Regions from separate parts of the Homo sapiens genome. Here regions 1 and 3 are each linked to region 2. Evidence: fine-mapped expression QTL. A gene starts in region 2. Each other region holds a variant in brackets. All regions are shown on one strand. Distances are from middle to middle.

What was found. PIP is the estimated chance that this variant, and not a neighbour inherited with it, causes the effect. A credible set is the group of variants that fine-mapping cannot tell apart.
Region 1: its variant is the best candidate, but not a certain one, in a credible set for the expression of LBX2-AS1 in subcutaneous fat (GTEx, PIP 0.69).
Region 3: its variant is the best candidate, but not a certain one, in a credible set for the expression of LBX2-AS1 in pituitary (GTEx, PIP 0.86).

Annotation. Positions count from the first base shown.
Region 1 is chr2:74,545,620-74,548,373 of GRCh38, forward strand. All of the region lies in intron 4 of LOXL3 (lysyl oxidase like 3), which reads right to left. Among named protein-coding and RNA genes, the nearest start is that of LOXL3, 6.9 kb to the right of the region's middle. RefSeq lists an enhancer at 427-596. The variant G/A (reference allele first, on the strand shown) is at 1,317.
Region 2 is chr2:74,501,171-74,503,924 of GRCh38, forward strand. LBX2-AS1 (LBX2 antisense RNA 1) reads left to right here and starts at 1,423. Exons shown (of 2, transcript NR_152616.1): 1 at 1,423-1,782; 2 at 2,470-2,754. It also overlaps a transcript of LBX2 not described here. RefSeq lists enhancers at 1,331-1,955, 1,956-2,581, 2,052-2,346, 2,253-2,322.
Region 3 is chr2:74,459,094-74,461,847 of GRCh38, forward strand. It overlaps WBP1 (WW domain binding protein 1), which reads left to right. Exons shown (of 4, transcript NM_012477.4): 2 at 550-652; 3 at 780-956; 4 at 1,128-1,788. The coding sequence ends at 1,588. MOGS (mannosyl-oligosaccharide glucosidase) reads right to left here. Exons shown (of 4, transcript NM_006302.3): 4 at 1,964-2,754. The coding sequence ends at 2,182. It overlaps INO80B-WBP1 (INO80B-WBP1 readthrough (NMD candidate)), which reads left to right. Exons shown (of 8, transcript NR_037849.1): 6 at 550-652; 7 at 780-956; 8 at 1,128-1,798. Among named protein-coding and RNA genes, the nearest start is that of WBP1, 2.0 kb to the left of the region's middle. The variant A/ACACATTT (reference allele first, on the strand shown) is at 1,038.

The DNA.
Region 1 (2,754 bases), 44 kb after region 2:
TTAGGTCTGGGCAGCACTGACTTAGCTGGTCACTCTCTCCTCTTCGAAGCACTTTACTTGGCTCCCAGGCCACCACACTCCCCTGGTTTTCTTCCTACCTCACCTCACTGTTTGCATTCATCTTATCTTCTGACTTTTAAATATTTAGTCTCCCCAAGGTTCAGTCTCTGGGCCTCTCTCTGTCTTTTAAATTTACATTCACTTCCTTGGTATGTTGTCCAGTTTCAGGACTTTATATGTTTTACTCAACTGAACTCCAGAGTCCTATATTAAATTACCTAACTTAGCCTCGCCACTTCAATGTCTTAAAGAATCTTAAATTTAACAGGTCTAAAACCAAGTTCCTACCCTCCACCCCCAAGCCCATCTCCCAACAAAACATGCTCCATTCACTGTTTTCCTTGTCAGGTGAGGCCAATTTCTTACTTAGCTGAGGCCAAAAACCTGGAGAGAGCCTTAACTCCTCTCTCTCACATCACACTGAATCCATCAGCAAGTCCTATAGCTCTGCCTTCAACTGTCTGTAAATCTTGATCATTTTTCACCACTTTCACTGGTCACCATCACCTTTCACTTTCTTTACGTGGCTTTCAGAAGACAATAACCCCATAACCAGCCACCTGACTTCTTGCTTCTACTGCATCCCTTACAATCTATTCCTAATAAAGCAGTGAAAGTAGTACTGAAAAAAAAATGGAAGCCCGATGTCACACCTCTGCTCCAAGCCCTCCAGTGGTTCCTTATCTCCCACAGAACAAAAGCCATCCTCTCCCAGATGGCCCGCAGGATCTGGCTTCCCATTCTTTTCCGAAGACCACCTACACTGCATCTCCTACCATTTTCTTCTTTTTCACTCAGCTCCAGCCACAGTGGCCTCCAGGAGAAGGAGAGGCCTTATCCCATCACCCACTACATACACACACAGGCACACACACACCCCAGAATATTTTCATTTTTGATCCCTCTTCCTAGAAATGTTTATCTAGAGGTCTGCATAGCTTGTGCCCTCACCTCCTTTAAATCTTTTCTCAAATGATGCCTTCTCCAAGAGGCCTTCCTTCACCACTTATTTATTTACTTACTTACTTAATTTATTTTTATTTTATTTTTATTTGAGACGGAGTTTCGCTCTTGTTGCCCAGGCTGGAGTGCAATGGCGCGATCTCAGCTCACCGCAACCTCCGCCTCCCGGGTTCAAGCCATTCTCCCGCCTCAGCCTCCCGAGTAGCTGGGATTACAGTCATGCGCCACCACACCCGGCTAGTTTTGTATTTTTAGTAGAGATGGGGTTTCTCCATGTTGGTCAGGCTGGTCTC[G/A]AACTCCTGACCTCAGGTGATCCGCGCCTCGACCTCCCAAAGTGCTGGGATTACAGGTGTGAGCCACCGTGCCCGGCCTTAGTTAATTTATTTTTTGAGACAGGGTCTTGCTCTGCCACCCAGGCAGTGTAGTGGCATGATCACAGCTCACTGCAGCCTTGACTTCCTGGGCTCAAGCAATCTTCCCACCTCAGCCTCCCAAGTAGCTGGGACTACAGGCACGCACCACCATGTTCAGCTAATTTTATTTTTAAAAAATTATCTGTAGAGACAGGGTCTCATTATGTTGCCCAGGCTGGTCTCGAATTCTTGGGCTCAAATAATGCTTCCACCGTGGCCTCCCAAAGTCCTGGGATTATAGGCATGAGCCACGGGTAGTGTCTACAACAGTACCTGGCACATAGTAAGATCTCAGTAAATAAATATTGGGTGAGTGGATCTCTACACCTTTGTTCACGCTATCTTCTTCACTGGAAATGTCTAAATTCTACGCATCTTTCAGAACATGGGGTTTAAATTAGGGAAGGTAAGCAGCACAGAGAAGGAAATGCAGCCCCAAGATGGATGAAAGTAAAGAGGCACAGCACGTTTGTTTTAAAGTGGTTTGAGTGTCCAGGCCAGATAAAGTACCGAAAGTCCTCAGTACTGAAAGACATTTCAGATGAGCCTCAGAGCCAAGGCAAAGAAAGTGTGAGCAGGTATAGAAAAGACTGGAGACTGGATAATATCCTGACTTTCAAAAGAAAAAAAAAAAAGGAGAAAAAGGATTCCTCAATTCCTCAATCTACACATAAGTAATATTCTAGAATAAATTATTAAATAGAAGTTTGTAAGCATTTAGGAAAAAATAAGGTGATTCTTAGAGACCTAAAAGGATTTCAGTAAAAATAGACTCAAACTACTATGATTTTCTTTTTTGACAGGATTACTAAATTGGAAGGCTGGAGAATGGCTGTGAACATAGCATATCTGGATTTTATCAAAAACTAACAGAATCTCCCATGATTTCATTACAGATAAGAAATATATAGATAGATAAGGTGAAATGTTGGTTACATCATTGAAGTGTTCTGTTTCTTCCCAGTTGGTGGAAGGAACATATTTTACAGCTGATGATTAGAAGCTTGATGAAAATCTACAGGAACATTTTGCAAGAAGAGTTAGACTTTGGTTTTAAACATTTCCACAACAACTTTTAGCCATTTGGATGAAGCCAGAAGGCAAAGCTGCCATGTCTGTTCAGCAGAGGAGGCTGAGGGGAAATGACAGATGGAAAGTCACATCAGGACTCAAGATAATCTCATGGGATCATCATGGCTTTTTTATGGCTTCTAAATTATGTATCAAAACAAATGTAATAGGTAAACGTCACCTATACCTGGGTTGGAAAAGGCTGCTCTATCAGTAGGAAGCATAGGGAAGACCTGAACTGGTTTTA
Region 2 (2,754 bases):
AACACACTTAAAGGCTGATGGGCCACTGCTGGATCAAAGAGCAGAGCCAGGCCATGGTGGAAAGCTGAGCTGCCTCAGGACGTTGTTAAATGGTTATTAATGGTGAGGGGCAGGGGAGGGCCTGGAGAGATCTTCGGGCTACAGGCCTCAGCCCTGGAAACCATCCTAGTGGTTTCACTTAATGTGCAATAAAGCAGCTCTCTGGAGGCAGCAGGAACTGCCCCACTGCATCCCAGGCATATCACCAAGCAGATGCTGCAACCTTCACTCATGCATCCTCTATGTGGCTTTTGTGTCTGTCTCTACCTCTGCTCTCAATTACTTACGTGTGTCTGTGAGGAGTGTGGAGCTCTGCTGATGGGCCTGTGCCTCACAGCCCCTTCCATCTCTCCCGCCTAGTTCTCCCCTCTGCAGCTGGGCTCAGGTACTGGGATTGGACAGCTCCTAAACATGAGTTTGGGGGAGGAGATGGAAGTGGAGAGTAGCAAAGGGAGGAGGCCCAGGACAGCAGAGGCCCCTCTAAGGTCGTCAAAGCGGCCAGGGACTAGTCCAGGGGATCGTGGGGCCACAGAAGGGGACTTTTCTCAGTACTGGAACTCGAGCTGGGGCGAAATCGGATCCACAGAGAGGGGTAGGAGGGTGAGTGATTAATGAGGAAGATTAAGAGATTAAAACTTGTTCTGGGTTGGGGAGGGGACACTCACTCGGCTGTCCTATAGGTTACCCCCCACCCCAGCTTGGAAGCACAGAAGCTCCTGGGTGCTCGCCTCTTCCCACCCGCGGGTAGAACCCTCCCTGTTCACGATCCTTCTCAAGAGATGCACGGAGGCCAGCCTTCACCGCTGGCCCCGCGGGGCCAACGGTTTTCCTTTTCAGGCAGTCTCTTGTGTTTCCCACCTTCTCAGATTCCTTTGATTGTCCATTCAGACATTTCGGGGCCCTGCGCTCCCTCCCCTTGTAGAGATCCCCACATTCCAAATTCGCTGTCTTGGGAAGGCACCCCATTCCCGCTTAAGGATGCTTCCTCACACCTCCCCTTTCAGATTTCCCATTCTCACCCCTCAGCCCTACCCCCACCTTATCTTGCACCCACACACCCCATCGGCGGGTTCCTCCACCCCGGGCCGCCCCCGCTCGACCCCGTTCCCCACTGGTGGCACGGAGGCCTGCTCAATAAACGACCTTTAGTCTCGGATTGCCGGCCCGGACATTCCACTGAATTCTGTGAATGTGTAGCAGGGTTGGAGGACCCTCGGAATAACCCCCTTGGGGAGGTGGACAAGGACAATCTCAGCGAAGAGCTTGCTCCCCTCCTCCCCACCCTTAGGAAACGTCCGTGAACCGGAGTGAGAGGGCAGTGGGAGTTCAGGGAGCAAAGTCCAGGCGGAGGAGCGTGAGGCGGGGCTTCCGTCCGTCCCGCACACTTCTGGGATTGTTTTCTCTTTCAGAAAGCGCTACTGCGGAGTGAACCGGTCCTTATATCTTAGTTTCGTGACTTTGGGGGCGGCAGGCCTGTGAGTTGTTTTCCGCCCTGGACGCTGTTTTGCAAAGATCTCTGCGCGCCCACCGCCACCCTCCCGGGCGTGCGGGCCGGGAAGCAGCCAGCGGTGGGAAACTCCGACGCCCTCCTCGACACTTTTCTCCCCCCAACTCCCCAAGACTCACTTCTAGGGAAGTCCTTTTTCCCATCAAGCCCTGGGAAAGACTGGCCAGGCTGAGAGAGGGACCCGTCCTCCTCTGTGCCAAAGGCGGGAGCAAATCCTGGTGCTGTCGCCTTTGGATGTGAGTCCTGGAAATGGCGGGGGTGAGGAAGGTGGGCAGGGGCAAGGTTTGGCCCTCAGGCGAGAACCGACGCCTTGTCCCGGAAGCGCAGCACGGCCGAGTGCGTCCGGGGGTGCAGACGGCGCCCTGGGGTGGTCCTGCCGCCACCTCTCCTTTGACTCAGGAGCGCCGCGCCGCGTCCGGGCGCGTTCTCAGTCGCGCGAAGCCAGAGAGGACCCTGGGCGTGATTCTCCCTCCCTGGCACAGACGGAGACCCGAGTGACCCCGGGGTCCGGGTGGGCGTGGGGAATGGACCCATAGACCCGGGACGAGCGGCGCGGAGCCCGCAGCTGGCCAGCTTCAGCCACCTTGGGAGACGCAGTGCAGCTGCCGCTGCTGACAGACAAGACCAAGGCTCGGCTGGGCCCCACCCCAGATCCGGCCTGAGCGCCTTCCGCGCTGCTCGGCCTCAAGGCGTGAGTCACCAAGGGCAAGTCCCGTGACTTGGTCCTCAGGGTCTCCGGCCTCGGCACATTAATCTTCAGACCCGGCTTTTTCGACGCCGAGCTGCCGCCCAGCCCCAATGGCAGGGCCTTCCAGGGAGTCCCAGTCAGACTGCTCCCCAGCTCCCGCAGCTGCTCGGTCCCTGCAAAGCCCCCGGGAGCGTTTCTACTCTCCCCTGAGCCCACGCCATCCCGTCACTCCTAGGAAACTTTTCGCGCAGAAACTCCTGGAGAACAGCCCCGGCCGCCAGGTACTCGCCCGCCCGGACCGCAAAGCCCACAGAGCTTCAATTCGCAGGAAGGGGAGTGGGGAGCCCTGAGCTGGGGTGTTCCTGGAAGAGGTCGGGGAGCGGGGGGAGAGGCATTCCAGGCTGGAGGCCTGGAAACGTTTGGAAGCTTTGCTAACCTTGGAGACCATGTCAGGAAAGAAGCGTACCCAGGCCGTCTGCTGTGTGCCCACCCCGATCCCCATCAGTGCCCCACGCACTCG
Region 3 (2,754 bases), 42 kb before region 2:
ATCTGGTTGGGAGCACTGCTCTGGGTCTCACACTGCCCCTCCTCTATCCTAGGGAGCCTGAGGCCCAGGGGTGGAAAGATCCAGTTGCGGGTGGGGGGTAGTGAACCGCGCAGGATAATGAAAGCAACTTGCTTTGGAAATGACCTACCGCTACCCGTTGTCTGAGACTGAGATTATCTCAGACTGTCTTCTGGCTTCTGCCAAAACACTCCCTTAACAGAAAGCACCGAGGGGATGGGGGTAGGGGGGTTGGGGAGAGTGAGGCTTGAGTGTGAAGGAAGTCTCATATATGCAGAGCTGAAATCTCCCTCTTTGTATGTCCACACTTTTGTCTTGTTCTCTAGACTGATTCTTGCTATTCCAAATCCTCTTCCACGTTGACAGCCCTTCAGATATTTCAACACTCCTCTCAGCATCCTCCACTTCCCCCATCTCTCCAAGCTGAACTTGGTTCACAGGGTGGGATTGTGTATGTGCATGCAGGAGGTGGGGGTGGACAGTGCCCTGGGCTGGAATCCCCCTTAGTTCTAAGTGCCTCCTTGCCCGCAGCTTCGAGAGCTGTGCCCAGGAGTGAACAACCAGCCCTACCTCTGTGAGAGTGGTCACTGCTGCGGGGAGACTGGCTGCTGCACCTACTACTATGAGCTCTGGTGTAAGTCTCCAAGAGGGCTATTTCCAGGTCCCTGTGTCCACCCTCCCTTGGACCTCAGAATTTCGGCCTTCAGGGCCCCTTCTCTGCATGAAAGATGCCTGAGTTGCTCCCTCCTTGCCTCTTGCAGGGTTCTGGCTGCTCTGGACTGTCCTCATCCTCTTTAGCTGCTGTTGCGCCTTCCGCCACCGACGAGCTAAACTCAGGCTGCAACAACAGCAGCGGCAGCGTGAAATCAACTTGTTGGCCTATCATGGGGCATGCCATGGGGCTGGTCCTTTCCCTACCGGTTCACTGCTTGACCTTCGTGAGTGACTTGATGCCCTGGGTCAGCTACCAGTGGCCCTCCCCAAACCAGAACCCCAAATCGTCTCACATTCCCTTTTCC[A/ACACATTT]CACATTTCAAAGTATTTTTCCCTAATATAAAAACTAGCACCCTATACCTGGTTGTCTTCAACCAATCATGCCAATTTTCTCCCCTGCAGGCTTCCTCAGCACCTTCAAGCCCCCAGCCTACGAGGATGTGGTTCACCGCCCAGGCACACCACCCCCCCCTTATACTGTGGCCCCAGGCCGCCCCTTGACTGCTTCCAGTGAACAAACCTGCTGTTCCTCCTCATCCAGCTGCCCTGCCCACTTTGAAGGAACAAATGTGGAAGGTGTTTCCTCCCACCAGAGTGCCCCCCCTCATCAGGAGGGTGAGCCCGGGGCAGGGGTGACCCCTGCCTCCACACCCCCCTCCTGCCGCTATCGCCGTTTAACTGGCGACTCCGGTATTGAGCTCTGCCCTTGTCCTGCCTCCGGTGAGGGTGAGCCAGTCAAGGAGGTGAGGGTTAGTGCCACCCTGCCAGATCTGGAGGACTACTCCCCGTGTGCACTACCCCCAGAGTCTGTACCGCAGATCTTTCCCATGGGGCTGTCTTCCAGTGAAGGGGACATCCCATAAGTAGTTTTGAGAGGGTGGATGGGTTACTTGCCCACCAGAAACAGCCCTAGTCCCAACTCCTTGCGTTCCTTTGGCCCCTCCCTGCCTACCTAGAATCTGCCTGAAAGGGCTGGAGAGGGGCAGTATTGGGGGACTGTGCTAGCTTTACCCCCGCAGGACATACACAGGAGCCTTTGATCTCATTAAAGAGATGTGAACCAGCTACTTGTGGATTTGGGTGGACTAAAGCTCAACTCACTGCATTGCACTTGACCTGACTGGGTTTGAAGGGGACAGGTTATGGCCACTTGACCCCACCTTCCCTGAGGACAGCAGACAGTGCTGAGGCCTGGACTGACCTAAGGCCTCTTGGTGAGGCAAATCTGGCAAAAGCAATAGAGTTCAAAATGTTTTTTCCAATTTATTTAGAAAAATAGACTCTGGATTCACATTCACCCCAGGGCTATGTGGGATGACAGCAAGGAGACACCTGAGATGAAATGAGGAAGGTTTGAATTACTGGTATCCAAGGGGCTGGGGGCAAAAGCCAGAAGCCTTTGTCCCTTCAGAGCCAGAGTGGCATGAGTGTCTTGGCTCCCCTCCTCTCCCTCCCTTCAGTAGTCTTCAGCCATGGCCAGTAAGACAAGGCTGGTCCAGCCGTGGAAAGGGCGGCAGCCCATGCCTCGCCCATCGCGGTCACTGTACTGCTCCCAAAGAAAGCCTGTAGCCTGGTACTGGCGCCATACATTGCCTACCACGTTGGCACGGAGCTCACCGTGGAGTTTGGCAGCCCGAGCCTGGTGAGGACCCTCCAGATGCCCATAGTGGTGGAGTGCTCCCAAAGCCAGGTAGTTGACATTGAGCCACACAGCACCCCGCCAGTAGGGGGGATCATGCTCTGAATTGCGCTGGCCATAAAAGGAGCTGGAGGCTGCAAGGGAGCGTAAACCAAAGGGGCTCCAGAGATGGCGGCTGTCGGCTAGAATGTCCAGCAGGGGCCCAAGGCGGGATGAGGTGGGGTCCAGCAGTCGCAGCAGCAAGGGAAAAAGACTGACATAGCCAAGAGCATCTACATACTGCAGTTGAGGTTGGGGCCGACCCACCACCCGAACGAGCCCCTGAGGGGGCCTGGGCTTCAGCTGTACTGCTTTTGTGTGGTTCCCAAAGTCTGCAAAGACTCCTAGCTC